Homo sapiens: one gene and its partners. The protein of the gene in region 1 interacts with the protein of each later gene in a biochemical or structural test. Each region holds a gene or a part of one and is shown on either strand. Other genes may lie near its edges.

The links.
Region 2: the proteins of ARVCF (region 1) and CDH15 form a complex in vitro, tested with the Homo sapiens proteins (one study listed by BioGRID).
Region 3: the proteins of ARVCF (region 1) and ERBIN interact in a test that uses a peptide from one of them, tested with the Homo sapiens proteins (3 studies listed by BioGRID and IntAct, with this or other methods).

The regions. Positions count from the first base shown.
Region 1 is NC_000022.11:20,010,173-20,013,917, reverse strand, and holds part of ARVCF (splicing regulator ARVCF), read left to right. Parts: intron 1-3,409; 5' UTR 3,410-3,463; intron 3,464-3,745. UniProt on the Homo sapiens protein: Contributes to the regulation of alternative splicing of pre-mRNAs.
Region 2 is NC_000016.10:89,181,665-89,185,409, forward strand, and holds part of CDH15 (cadherin-15 preproprotein), read left to right. Parts: intron 1-1,883; coding exon 1,884-2,028; intron 2,029-3,508; coding exon 3,509-3,669; intron 3,670-3,745. UniProt on the Homo sapiens protein: Cadherins are calcium-dependent cell adhesion proteins. They preferentially interact with themselves in a homophilic manner in connecting cells; cadherins may thus contribute to the sorting of heterogeneous cell types.
Region 3 is NC_000005.10:65,924,719-65,928,463, forward strand, and holds the start of ERBIN (erbin), read left to right. Parts: upstream 1-1,856; 5' UTR 1,857-2,088; intron 2,089-3,745. UniProt on the Homo sapiens protein: Acts as an adapter for the receptor ERBB2, in epithelia. By binding the unphosphorylated 'Tyr-1248' of receptor ERBB2, it may contribute to stabilize this unphosphorylated state.

The DNA of each region.
Region 1 (3,745 bases):
CTGGGTGACAGGGTGAGACTCCGTCTCAAAAAAAGAAAAAAAAATACCCACAAAAAAACAAACAGAAAAACCCAAGATGAAGTCTTGGGTCACTCTGAGGGGACTTGGGATCAGGGATCCCTTAGTAGGTTTTCCTGGCTCAGGGCCTTCATATCTTGGCCTGTTTCAGGTCGGGAAGATGACCCAGAGCTGGTGGGTGCCTGGGGCCACAGAGTTCCCCCCACTCCATAACCAGTTATGCACAGGCCCTTCCCACTGCCCCTGCTGATTGAGGGGCTGCCGCCTCTGGCAGAGCAACGGGGAGCTGAGCATGGCCACCAGAGGGCAGCTGGGACCGCCACAGCAGGCAAGACCGGCTCCACCCAGCTTCCTGCGGCAGACCAGGACCCTTCCCCAGACACCTGGCTTGGATGACCGGAGCTCGGCCTCCAAGCCGCCTATTGAGGGCGTGGAGTTGGAAAGGAGCCAAGCAAGGCCCCTCGGTACCCCCAACATGCTTGGTGCAGGCAGAAGGAAGCCTGAAGGCCAGCTGGTGGGTGACCACACACAGGCTCAGCAGGGACAGTGAAGGACTAGCCCTGTGCCTGCGTAGCCCCAAAAGTGCAGTGTCCTTCAAGTGTGTGCCCAGGGGCCTCCCAAGCCTTCCCAGGTGTGGTCTGTGCCTCAATGTCCACAGCAGAAGTGGGCGTGTTCTCACTATGTGCCCAGGGTGGCAGCAGGCCTAGGAGAACACTCGGTTTTGCTGTAGTGGACAGCATTGTCATTGAGCAGCATGGACCTTCCCTGTCCACTGGCCACGGGGCACTCCATTCACCTGCCTGCATTGGCTGTTGCCAGGGCATGTTCTCAGCTACCTACAGTCAGTGTCACCTCGCGCTCATAGAGCAGGAAGCGAGGAGACTTGGGGAGGGGGTGGCCTGCTGAGGCCACACTGCAGGGAGTGCAGAGCGAGCTCACCTGGGCCCCTCATTGCCTACCCAGCCCAGGCTGCATCCTCCATCCCAGTTCTGGGCCCAGTGTGTACCCATGGGAGCTGCCCTGTGCCGTCAGCTATCCAAAGGACTGTAGCTTGCCAATCTGGCTGTGTGGCCTGGGCCAGGCTTATGCCCCAGTGTGAGACCTCTCAGCCCTCTGGTTGGACCATGGATACCGTGCCAGAACCACAGGGCTTACTAGGGCATCAGTGGGGTGTAGCCAGGGGCTGACAGAGCCCCATGGCCAGCCATCGGGTCTGGACAGTTTGGTGGGGAGACCCAGTGTGGGGGTCCCATGGCATGGGTAGGCCCAGGCCATCCTCACTGGGAAAAGGGCCCAATAAAGGGCGTGGTCATTCCCCCGCTTTGAGGCGGCTGGTACTGGGTCCTTGGCCAGGCAGGTGACCCCAGAGCTTGCAGAGCACTCAGGGGGGCTCCCCAAGGTGAGCACCTCCCCACCTTCCCATATGATCCTATCACTAGTTCTGCCTTCACATCACTGTCCTGTCTGTCGTCCCTCTGTCCGTCCACTGCCCAGAGCTCCCTTAGGTTGTCCACAGATGCTCTGCTCTGCCCCTGCCTGTACGATGCTGATGTGCCTAGTGCACCCTTAGGAAGGATACCCACAGCTCTGGCTGCTCCTACCACTCAGCCTCCTGTGGTGCTGCTATCCTCTGCTCCCACCCATCTCCTGGGGGAAGCCCTCTCCAATGCCTCACTTGGACCCCTTCCCAGGGTCTGCTATTGGCTCTACCATATGGTTGCAGGTTCTTGGCCTGGCTGGACCCCATGAGGTAGGAGGCCCATGAGGAAGGACCCATGTTCTCCTTTGGTCACACTTCCCCAACTGGGTGGGGGGGGGGGACTTTGGGAGGCCTGGAGGCAGGAAGACCTGAGTTAAATCCTGGCCCAGCCCTTGTCTGGCTGGGACCCAGTTTCTCCATGTGTAAAATGGGGTATATAGCCAACCTGAGACACCTGGTAGAGTCAGTGAGATGACGGCTCACAGCCAGTGTGTCTCGGTTCTGTGGCACATGGTGACTCCGGGGGAGAGGCTGGTGCTTATCAGGGATAAAAAAAAAAAGTCACATGGTTCTCTGTGGTACAAAACCTATGTGAACACTTAAGCTAAAACCAGAGGTTTCCTAGAAATGTCACACTCAGAGCAAAAGCTGGTTCCTAAGCCTCAGACCTTGGAGTAGGAGCAGCATCTCCTCTTCCTCGGGGCGCAGTGCTGGTGGATGGGCTCCCAACCGGGCCTGCCCATCTCAGGTGCACACACACACTCATATTCACATGCACGCACATGCATATGCACATGTGCCTGGCTTGGTCCCCAGTTCTTCCCTGCCTCAGGCCCTGCATCCCACCCCCCATGATCCCACCCTGAGGCGTAGCCAGTCGCCCACCCTCACTTGGACCCCTTCCCATGATGAAGAGGCTGTCGTGAGACGGGGAAACACACCGTTGGGGCACCAGAATGGACCATGACCACAAAGGACTATTGGGCGGGGCCTCAGAACAATCTAGAAAACACCGTAGAGGCGGGGGAGAGAGCTCTCATTACCGATGTCCCCCAGAGACAGCCTCCCATCCGAGGCCCAGCCCTTCCCTGTCTGTCTGCAGTGTCCTGTTTTTCATTTTTATGACATGAACACTCTGGCAATATCCCCGGGCCTAGATATAAGGAGAGGGAATGTGTCCCCGGGGCCATTAGCTGAGACAGGAAGCCGCAGGGTCCTCCCCTGAGGAAGGCTGAAAGCTGTGTGAGTACAGGCACCCCCTTGTCTCCTGCTCCAGCCCATAAGCCTCAGCTCCCCAGGCTTGAGTGCCAGGTCCCCCATCCCAGACAAATGGTTATTCACACCTGGCCACAGCTCCAGGGCCAGGAACCTGCCTGCTTCCCCGCCCTCCCTGTACTGGAGACTGTTGGGGGCAGCTGCCTGCCTGGGAGGGCCCAGGATCTATGTTGGCCTCAGGGAACCTCAGGAGAGGCACGTGGCCTCGCCCACAAGGCGGGAGCGGACTCTAGGGAGGTGGAGCAGATGTCTTATGGGGCTGTGAGCACCTGCGTGGGGCAACAGGACCCTGAGCCTGGCTACCCTGGGGTGGGAATACTGCTGTGCTGTGTGTGATGGGGAAGACGTCATTATCAGTCCACATCTCTGAAGGATCACGTTTCTGAAGGATGGTCAACAGCATTAGACATGCTGACAAGGAACCGTGGCAGCCCAGTGTCACCTACAGTCCTGGACATGTGGGGGCAAGAAGGTACACATGAGTGTGTGGTTATGAGTCAGGAGCACCACGGGATGACCTTCAGATCAGGCATGACAAGGTCCTGCTTAGAGGACGGTCTGGGCTTGTGTACCTTTATCCGGCAGGGACCTACCCAGCTGGATTGACCTCACTCATGCCCTCTGGTTTCCCTGCAGGAGCCAGAGCCTGCAGGGTGGGTGTCGGGACATGCTGATCTTCCCTCAAGACAGGTGAGTGGCCTGGGTTTAGCTTGGGGACATCCTCTCCCACATAGGACAGCAGAGTGTTCTGGTGGGCCTGGCGGGTGGGGGTGACAGGGATGGACTGGCCCTGGACACTGTGTGCTCCTGGTCCTTCTCACCCTGGGTAGGCACAGCCCCTGGGCTGGACAGGGTGGATGTGAGGGCCTCCTGCCACCAGCTTGGGTTTGTTACTGGCCTGAATATGGGCAGCAGCCACTGGTTTGATGTCTGGCTTTAGGGACAAGCCTGTTTGGGGCTGGCTGACGAGGT
Region 2 (3,745 bases), on another chromosome or scaffold:
TGCGGTGGCTCACGCCTGTAATCCCAGCAGTTTGGGAGGCCAAGGCAGGCAGATCATGAGGTCAAGAGATCGAGACCATCCTGGCTAACATGGTGAAACCCCGTCTCTACTAAAAAATACAAAAGTTAGCTGGGCATTCTAGCGTGCGCCTGTAGTCCCAGCTACTCAGGAGGCTGAGGCAGGAGAATCGCTGGAACCCGGGAGGCGAAGGTTGAAGTGAGCTGAGTCCTCGCCACTGCACTCCAGCCTGGTGACAGAGTGAGACTCTGTCTCAAAAAAAAAAACAGAAGAAGAAAGAAGAAGAGGAGGAGGAAGAGGAGGAGAAGAAGAAAGAAGAAGAAGAAAAAAAAGGGCAGTGGGAGCAAGCCCTAGAGCCCAGAAAACCAGAACCCCGTCTGCACTCCCTTCAGGCGCCTGCCCTCCCCCAGCCTCCCCTCCCCCAGCCTGCCCTCCCCCAGCCTGCCCTCCCCCAGCCTCCCCTCCCCCAGCCTGCCCTCCCCCAGCCTCCCCTCCCCCAGCCTGCCCTCCCCCAGCCTGCCCTCCCCCAGCCTCCCCTCCCCCAGCCTGCCCTCCCCCAGCCTGCCCTCCCCCAGCCTGCCCTCCCCAAGCCTCCCCTCCCCCAGCCTGCCCTCTCCCAGCCTGCCCTCTCCCAGCCTGTCCTCCCCCAGCCTGCCCTCTCCAAAATGTCATTTTGGGCTGGGCACAACGGCTCATGCTTGTAATCCGAGCACTTTGGGAGGCCGAGGCGAGTGGATCACCTGAGGTCAGGAGTTTGAGAACAGTCTGGCCAACATGGCAAAACCCCATCTCTACTAAAAATACAAAAAATTAGCCGGGTGTGGTGGCACGCGCCTGTAATCCCAGCTAGTTGGGAGGCTGAGGCAGGAGAATCACTTGAACCCAGGAAGTGGAGGTTGCAGTGAGCCAAGATCACACCACTGCACTCCAGCCTGGGCAACAGAGCGAGATGCCATCTCAAAAGGTAAAAAAAAAGAAAAGTAACTTTGTACTTGATGTGGGGAAAGGACGCTTCCTGCCTTTGCCTCTGCAGGAAGCAAAATTTCCTTTTATTTGCCCCAAATCCTCCTTTAGACTTTGAGAACCAGTCCTTGTATCCCTTACATCAAAAGTTATTAGAGAGTATTTCTCACTTGGAAACTGTAATTGTGCCCATTCTCCGAAAGGATGGGAGGCAGTTTAAAATGTCATGTGCACAGGGGAATTAAACTTCAGGAGGAGGCCAGGCGCAGTGGCTCACCCCTGTAATCCCAGCACTTTGGGAGGCCGAGGCGTATCACCTGAGGTCAGGAGTTTGAGACCAGCCTGGCTAACATGATGAAACCTCATTTCTACTAAAAATACAAAAAATTCGCTGGGCGTGGTGACGTGCACCTGTAATCCCAGCTACTTGGGAGGCTGAGGCAGGAGAATCGCTTGAACCCAGGAGGCAGAGGTTGCAGTGAGCTGAGATGTCGCCATTGGACTCCAGCCTGGGCAACAAGAGTGAAACTCTATCTCAAAAAAAAAAACAAAAAACAAAAACATAACTTCAGGAGGAACAAAGACCACAGAGAGACAGGGAGAGAGATTAGGAACCCTCTGAGAGCCTTACTTTAGTCACACGTGAAGCTGTGAGCTTCCTGGCTGCCAAGGCAAGCAGGGAAAGTGGCACCTGCCCTGTCTGCTAAGGGAAGGTGGCTCCCGTTCAGGGACGTCCTCAGTCACTGTGACAGATGCCCCACCCTGTGCTGTTTCTCGCCTGTTTAAGCTGGTGTTTCCAGCTGGAGACAAAGTCTGAACGTGCTGTCTCTTTCGCATGGCCCTAACGGGAGCCACAGAAATTTGGGGGCCACAGAGCCAGCCCTTGCTCTATGTTTGAACAGCTAAGAGCGTTTGCCCTGGACCTGGGAGGATCCACCCTGGAGGACCCCACGGACCTGGAGATTGTAGTTGTGGATCAGAATGACAACCGGCCAGCCTTCCTGCAGGAGGCGTTCACTGGCCGCGTGCTGGAGGGTGCAGTCCCAGGTGAGACAGGACCACAGCCCCGGGCCGGGAGGGGCTGCAAGGAAGGGCTCTGTGAAGTCCAGGACTTCCCTTAAGCAAGAATTCCAGAGGCCCCTCAGAGTCTAAAAATAAGTAAACAAGTCTCCGAGGCAGGTCCGTTTCCACAGGTCAACTCCTGCCACTTCCCATTCCAACATAAATTTCAAACCCAAAAATCTGAGCCTGGGAGTGGAGGTTTTTCAGGGGTCTTGTTCTCCCCCAAAAGCAAATGACTTCTCCCTCCTGCTGAGGGGGCCATCTGGAGCCAGGCACACTCCATCCTCACCCTGTACTCACATGGGGTCCAGAGCACCCACAGGCATCTCTAGGTTGTGATTCACCCTAAACCCAGGCTGACCTGTAAGCTCCAGCCACGGGGACTCGCTCCCACCTCCCTGGGGGCCGGTGGTAAAGACCTGGTGGAAAGGCACAGGCCCCCTCGTGTCTGAGGCTACCAAGGACTGTGGCCAGGCCTGGCCCAGGCTCAGGCTTGGAGGCTCATATCCCGCCTCAGTTTCCTTCCCGTGTCTGTGGCAGTGGCCTCCGCGCCTCGTTCTGCCCCAGGTGACAGACAGCACGTCCTAGCTCCAGCTGTCCCGGGGGGAAGTCACAGCCAGCCAGGAGCTGCTCCCCAGGGTGGCCCAAAGCCCGTCCTTCCCACCCCACCTCGGTGGCTAAGTCCACCTGAGCTGCCAGAGGGGTCAGGCCTAAATCTCAGGAGAGGGAAATGGGGGGAGGTGAAACCTGGTCCTGCCATATGTGGTCCCTCTAGCGGCACCTTCGTGAGTACCGCTTCCCACAGCAGGTGGGGCGGGGGCTCTGGCCTACACAGTCACAGTGCGCGTCCTCTGCTCGGCTGTCGTGTGTCCTGCACCCAGCCTGCCCGCGCATCCTCTGTTTTATCCTGCCCTTGCATCCTCTGTCTTATCCTGTCCGTGCGTCCTCTGTTTTATCCTTCCCCTGCGTCCTCTGCCCAGCCTGCCCGTGCGTCCTCTGTCTTATCCTGCCCGTGTGTCCTCTGTTCAGCCTGCCCATGCATCCTCTGTCACCCTGGATGCCAGCAGCTCCTGGAGGCCCCCGCTAGCTAGCCCAATCTGACCCAGCGCCCTTAGCCCCTGCACTGGGCAGGCCCAGGAGCCAGCACCTGACCCAGGTCGCATCCAATGCTCCTGTGCTCCGACCCCATAAACAGCACAAGCCGGGCAAAAGGCTTCGACCACATAGGTGGCCTGGACACAGCACGGTGGGCTTCAGGGGCAGCGGGAAGCATCTCGACCTGGGGGTTGCCGCATGCTGGCCGCCTCGGTGACGCAAACAGCAGCATGGACTGACTGCCCCATCTGGGGTCAGCCGTGCTGGAACCGGGGAGCCTGTGCACACGAGGTGCCCCCACGCCCCTCACAATGCCCCCAGCCCATCGGCCCTGTGGACGTTGGCCCTCACGCCTCCCTGTGCTTCCCAGGCACCTATGTGACCAGGGCAGAGGCCACAGATGCCGACGACCCCGAGACGGACAACGCAGCGCTGCGGTTCTCCATCCTGCAGCAGGGCAGCCCCGAGCTCTTCAGCATCGACGAGCTCACAGGAGAGATCCGCACAGTGCAAGTGGGGCTGGACCGCGAGGTGAGGTGGCGCCCCGGCAGCTCCACACCCGCACGGCCAGGGCAGCCCATCTCCTGCGGGTCCCTCTGCCCCCAGC
Region 3 (3,745 bases), on another chromosome or scaffold:
CCAGAGGCTAATTATCATCACTGTACACAGTTAAGTGCAGCAGAGAATGGGGGTGACGAATGGTTCGCTCCGCATTACGCTCCTTCTCTGGGTAAAACAAGGCCGTCTTTTCTGTGAACATATTTAAAGCAAGAACTGCAAAAACTGTGCAATGTTATGGTTGAGGCTTTCTATTTGCCATATGTGTTGACAGAATGCTTAAGAGTCTCTCTCCGCAATAAACGCGAACCCTGCCAGGCTGAATTATTAGGGCCAGCGCAATTCAACGACTGCACCACCACCGAACCGCTGGGGTTGGAAGCCTGCGTCGCATCGGAGCGTACCCATGTTTCTTCTAACAAAGGCACGATCTTGAGGCCATTTCGCGGGCCCTTTTCCCACTCCCAGCGCCAGCTTTGTCTCCCCGCCGGTATGAGGCTGAGACTTGGAGGAGGCTGAGCTGCGCCGCTGGGGAACAAGCTCGAAGGGCGGGCGTGGGAAGCTGCACCGCGCTGCCGCTGTGGTTTCCTGCGACCTGACCGTGCCATTAGAGGAAGTTGGAGTGCTGCAGCTGCAAGAGATACCTGCTGCCTTCAAATCAGGGCTGGACTCCAACAACCCCTGTGCACCGATTACTGTCGTACAAAGAAACTCCATCGGCCGGCGCGGCGGAGGCCTGTGGGCTCTCTATCTCTCTGGCTGGGCGCTGGGCCGCGAGCAGACAGCAGGGTCGGCGTTGCCAGCGTTCCCCACCCTGGGGGGCTCGGGAGTCCGGGAGTGCGGGGTCGGGGAGCGGGCAGGGAGCAGCGGGCAGGCCTCGAGGGGCCTGGGCCAGAGTGGGCCTCACGGCGCGCCTTGCACGCGAACCCACGGCCGCCGGCTGCCCCTCCCCCGGCCCCCGGCCCGCTGCCCCCAGCCGCCGACGTCGGCCCGCACCGCCCCCGCGCGCTGACTGGCCCGCGCAGGCCTCCTGCCCGGCTGTTGGCGGTTGGGGCGAAGCCGGCGGGAGGCCGCCCCGCCCCCGCCCCCGCCGCAGAGTCGCGGCGCGCAGCCTCTTCACCCGTCGCGGCCGGGGCGGTGGCGCTGTTGCCGCCGCGGCCTGTGAGGCAGTAACTCCCCTCCGCCCCTGCCCCATTCCTCCTCCTTTCTCTCCGCTCCCTCCGTCCTCCCTCCCCTCGCCGTCTCTCGCTCGAGTGAATGTGGCGCGGCGGCGCGGGACGCAGTCTCGGCCCCTGCCGCGGCCCCGCAAGCTCGTGAGGAGACGGAGCTGCCTCCTGCTCCCGCCCCCTGCGCGTCTCGGGGAGCCACCGCCGCTGGCGAAGGAGAACAAGCAGGGCAGCGGAGGGACGGTGGCGGGAAAACGGGAGAGGGAGGAGAAGAGGGTTCGAGGGCGAGTAGGGAAAGCGGGGAGGGACGGACGGAAGGACGGACGGCCCGACGGACGGCCCGGGGAGGGGGCCGCTATTGAGCCTGCCCGACTCCTCGGCTCCGGCTCCGGGTGGCGGCGGCAGCGGCGTCGCGGACGAAGGGCGCGGCAAGCGCTATCGAGACAATAACCCTGCCGCCCGGCTCTGGGGGCAACGGAGAGGAAGCGGTGGCGGCCTAGCGCGGCCGAGGCTCGCCGAGCGCCCGGGCAGCGTCCTCGCCCCCGCCGGCCGGGTGCTGCTGCCGTCCGGTGTGCCGGGCGCGCCGGTTGCCCGGAACCCGAGGCTCCCGGCGGCCGTCCCCTCCCCTCCCCCTCTCCGGTGCGCGCGGAGCTGGTTTTCCGGGTTCCCCTGGACGGAGCTGGATCCTGCTTCTCGCCAAGGCAGGAAGTGAGTTTCGCACTGCAATTCCGGGCGGTGTCACGAGTGAAAAGTTTTGTTTTTTTTTTTTTCGGCGGAGATCCTCGTTGGGGCTGGGAAACTCCTGCAAAACTCGAGACCAGGAAGCCAGCCCGCACCCCAACCCCCACCAAAGCCACCTACTCTTCTTCTGTGGGAGGCCAGTCCACATCCGCTCTCACCCGAGAGAGATATTCAGCTGGATCCAAAGTGACTGATGAAGGGAAGGAAATCATGTCAAGCGAAGCCTTGAAAAAGCTGCCCTGAGACGGTGTCCCGCCGAAAGGTAATTTTCACGAAAAGTGTCTCTGAGTCACAAAGTTCATGGGACTTTGTGACTCGGAAAAGAGATGATTCTTTAGTGTTTTTCACTCTTCTCCAAGTTGCCCTAAACCCTCCTTTTCTCATATCGAAGCGGTTAATAATTGAGGGGCTAAATAATCGAACTGCACCCCACCGCGTCCCTTCTCCCCCCTGCCCCCCCCACCATCTGGACTTTGAATTTTTTGGAAGAGGTTGTAAGAATGCGGTGGGACGAAAAGTTTTTAGTAATCCGAAGAACGATTGCCTTTGTTCAGCACAGGGGCCAGAAGTTTTGGCTTTCTGGAACGTATAGAGTGTATATTAAGTTGCTCAGCCAGGCACCTTCTGTTTGGGAAGAAAGTTTGGTCGCTGCAGTGAGTGATTTGCTGTTATTGAGATGGCTGCCGCGTTTGTTTATACTCATACCGATTATATTGGCGCTTGCGTTAATTGTATATAGAGGTATTTATTTTTATTTTTTTATTTCCAACCCTGATCAGTATATTTAGTTAGATTTTAGAAACCAAAAAATCTTGCCATTCTTAGTTGTTTTTCAGGGTGAGTAATATATTTCTTTAGTTGTGTGTAGTGTGTGTTTTTCAGACGTTTAGCGCCGTATAACTTGTTTAATTAATTGAAAGCAAGGATCGACTAGGCTTTTCTTGTAACTGATCCATTACGAAGAAAAAAGGAGTAAGGACTAAGAATAGGGAGAGATAATTAAACAACATTAACAACCTGTAAGACGTTTAATAGGACTTCTGTACAGTTCAGAACAGACGATGGGAGGGGAAGTAAAACGCTTAAAACGATTTTCAAGGGAATCACAGTGATTGTGATAAAAAGCTGTGCTTTTCGAGTAGTATGGTCTTTACATTTTTGTGTTGTCCCAAATGTTTTTGGTCGGTTCTGCATAAATAGTGATAGGTTCTGCCTACATCTGTGGGGGCAGGATTCATGAAGCATGGCAGACATTCCACCAGTCAGAGCTATGAACACTTCTGAACCAATGGGGACTAGTTTTGATAGCAGTAAACCCAAAGTTTTTTTCAGTGGTGTTTTAGTCTTTTTCTGTTTACTTTTTTTCCCGGTATTTTTGCGGTACAGGGAGGTGAAATACAATACTGTACTTTTGAATATATATTGAATAAATTTGGTAATCCTGTTGGTAGGTATATCCTAAATATATATTGATGTTTAGATTGCCTATGCTGTCTCACGTAATGACCGGAAACCCGAGGAGAGAGTTGATTTTCTTTAGTTCAAAGAGAAAAAATAAGTTTTAAAGATCAGGATCAAATTATTTCACAATTTGTTCTTTGCTACTTCAGCTTCATTAAGTACATCTCCAAAGGCAGTCCTTTATTTATTACTGTAGTTTTGATTTTTTTTTTCCTCCCCGGGGCATGGTCTCAGGAGATTCTTTTTTTTTTTCATTGTTGGTAAGATTTGTGAACCATGGAATAATTCTTGTTAAGTCAAACTAGCTTTATCAAAGAATTTAAAGTGCATAACTCATCTACTTTATGATTTTGGAACGTATCATTAGGCTGCAAAAGAGGTTATTCTTGGGCATCTGAAAGAGGTGAACAAAATAAATGGCATTGAACTTCAGTTTCCTTATATGGCTTATACTTGGC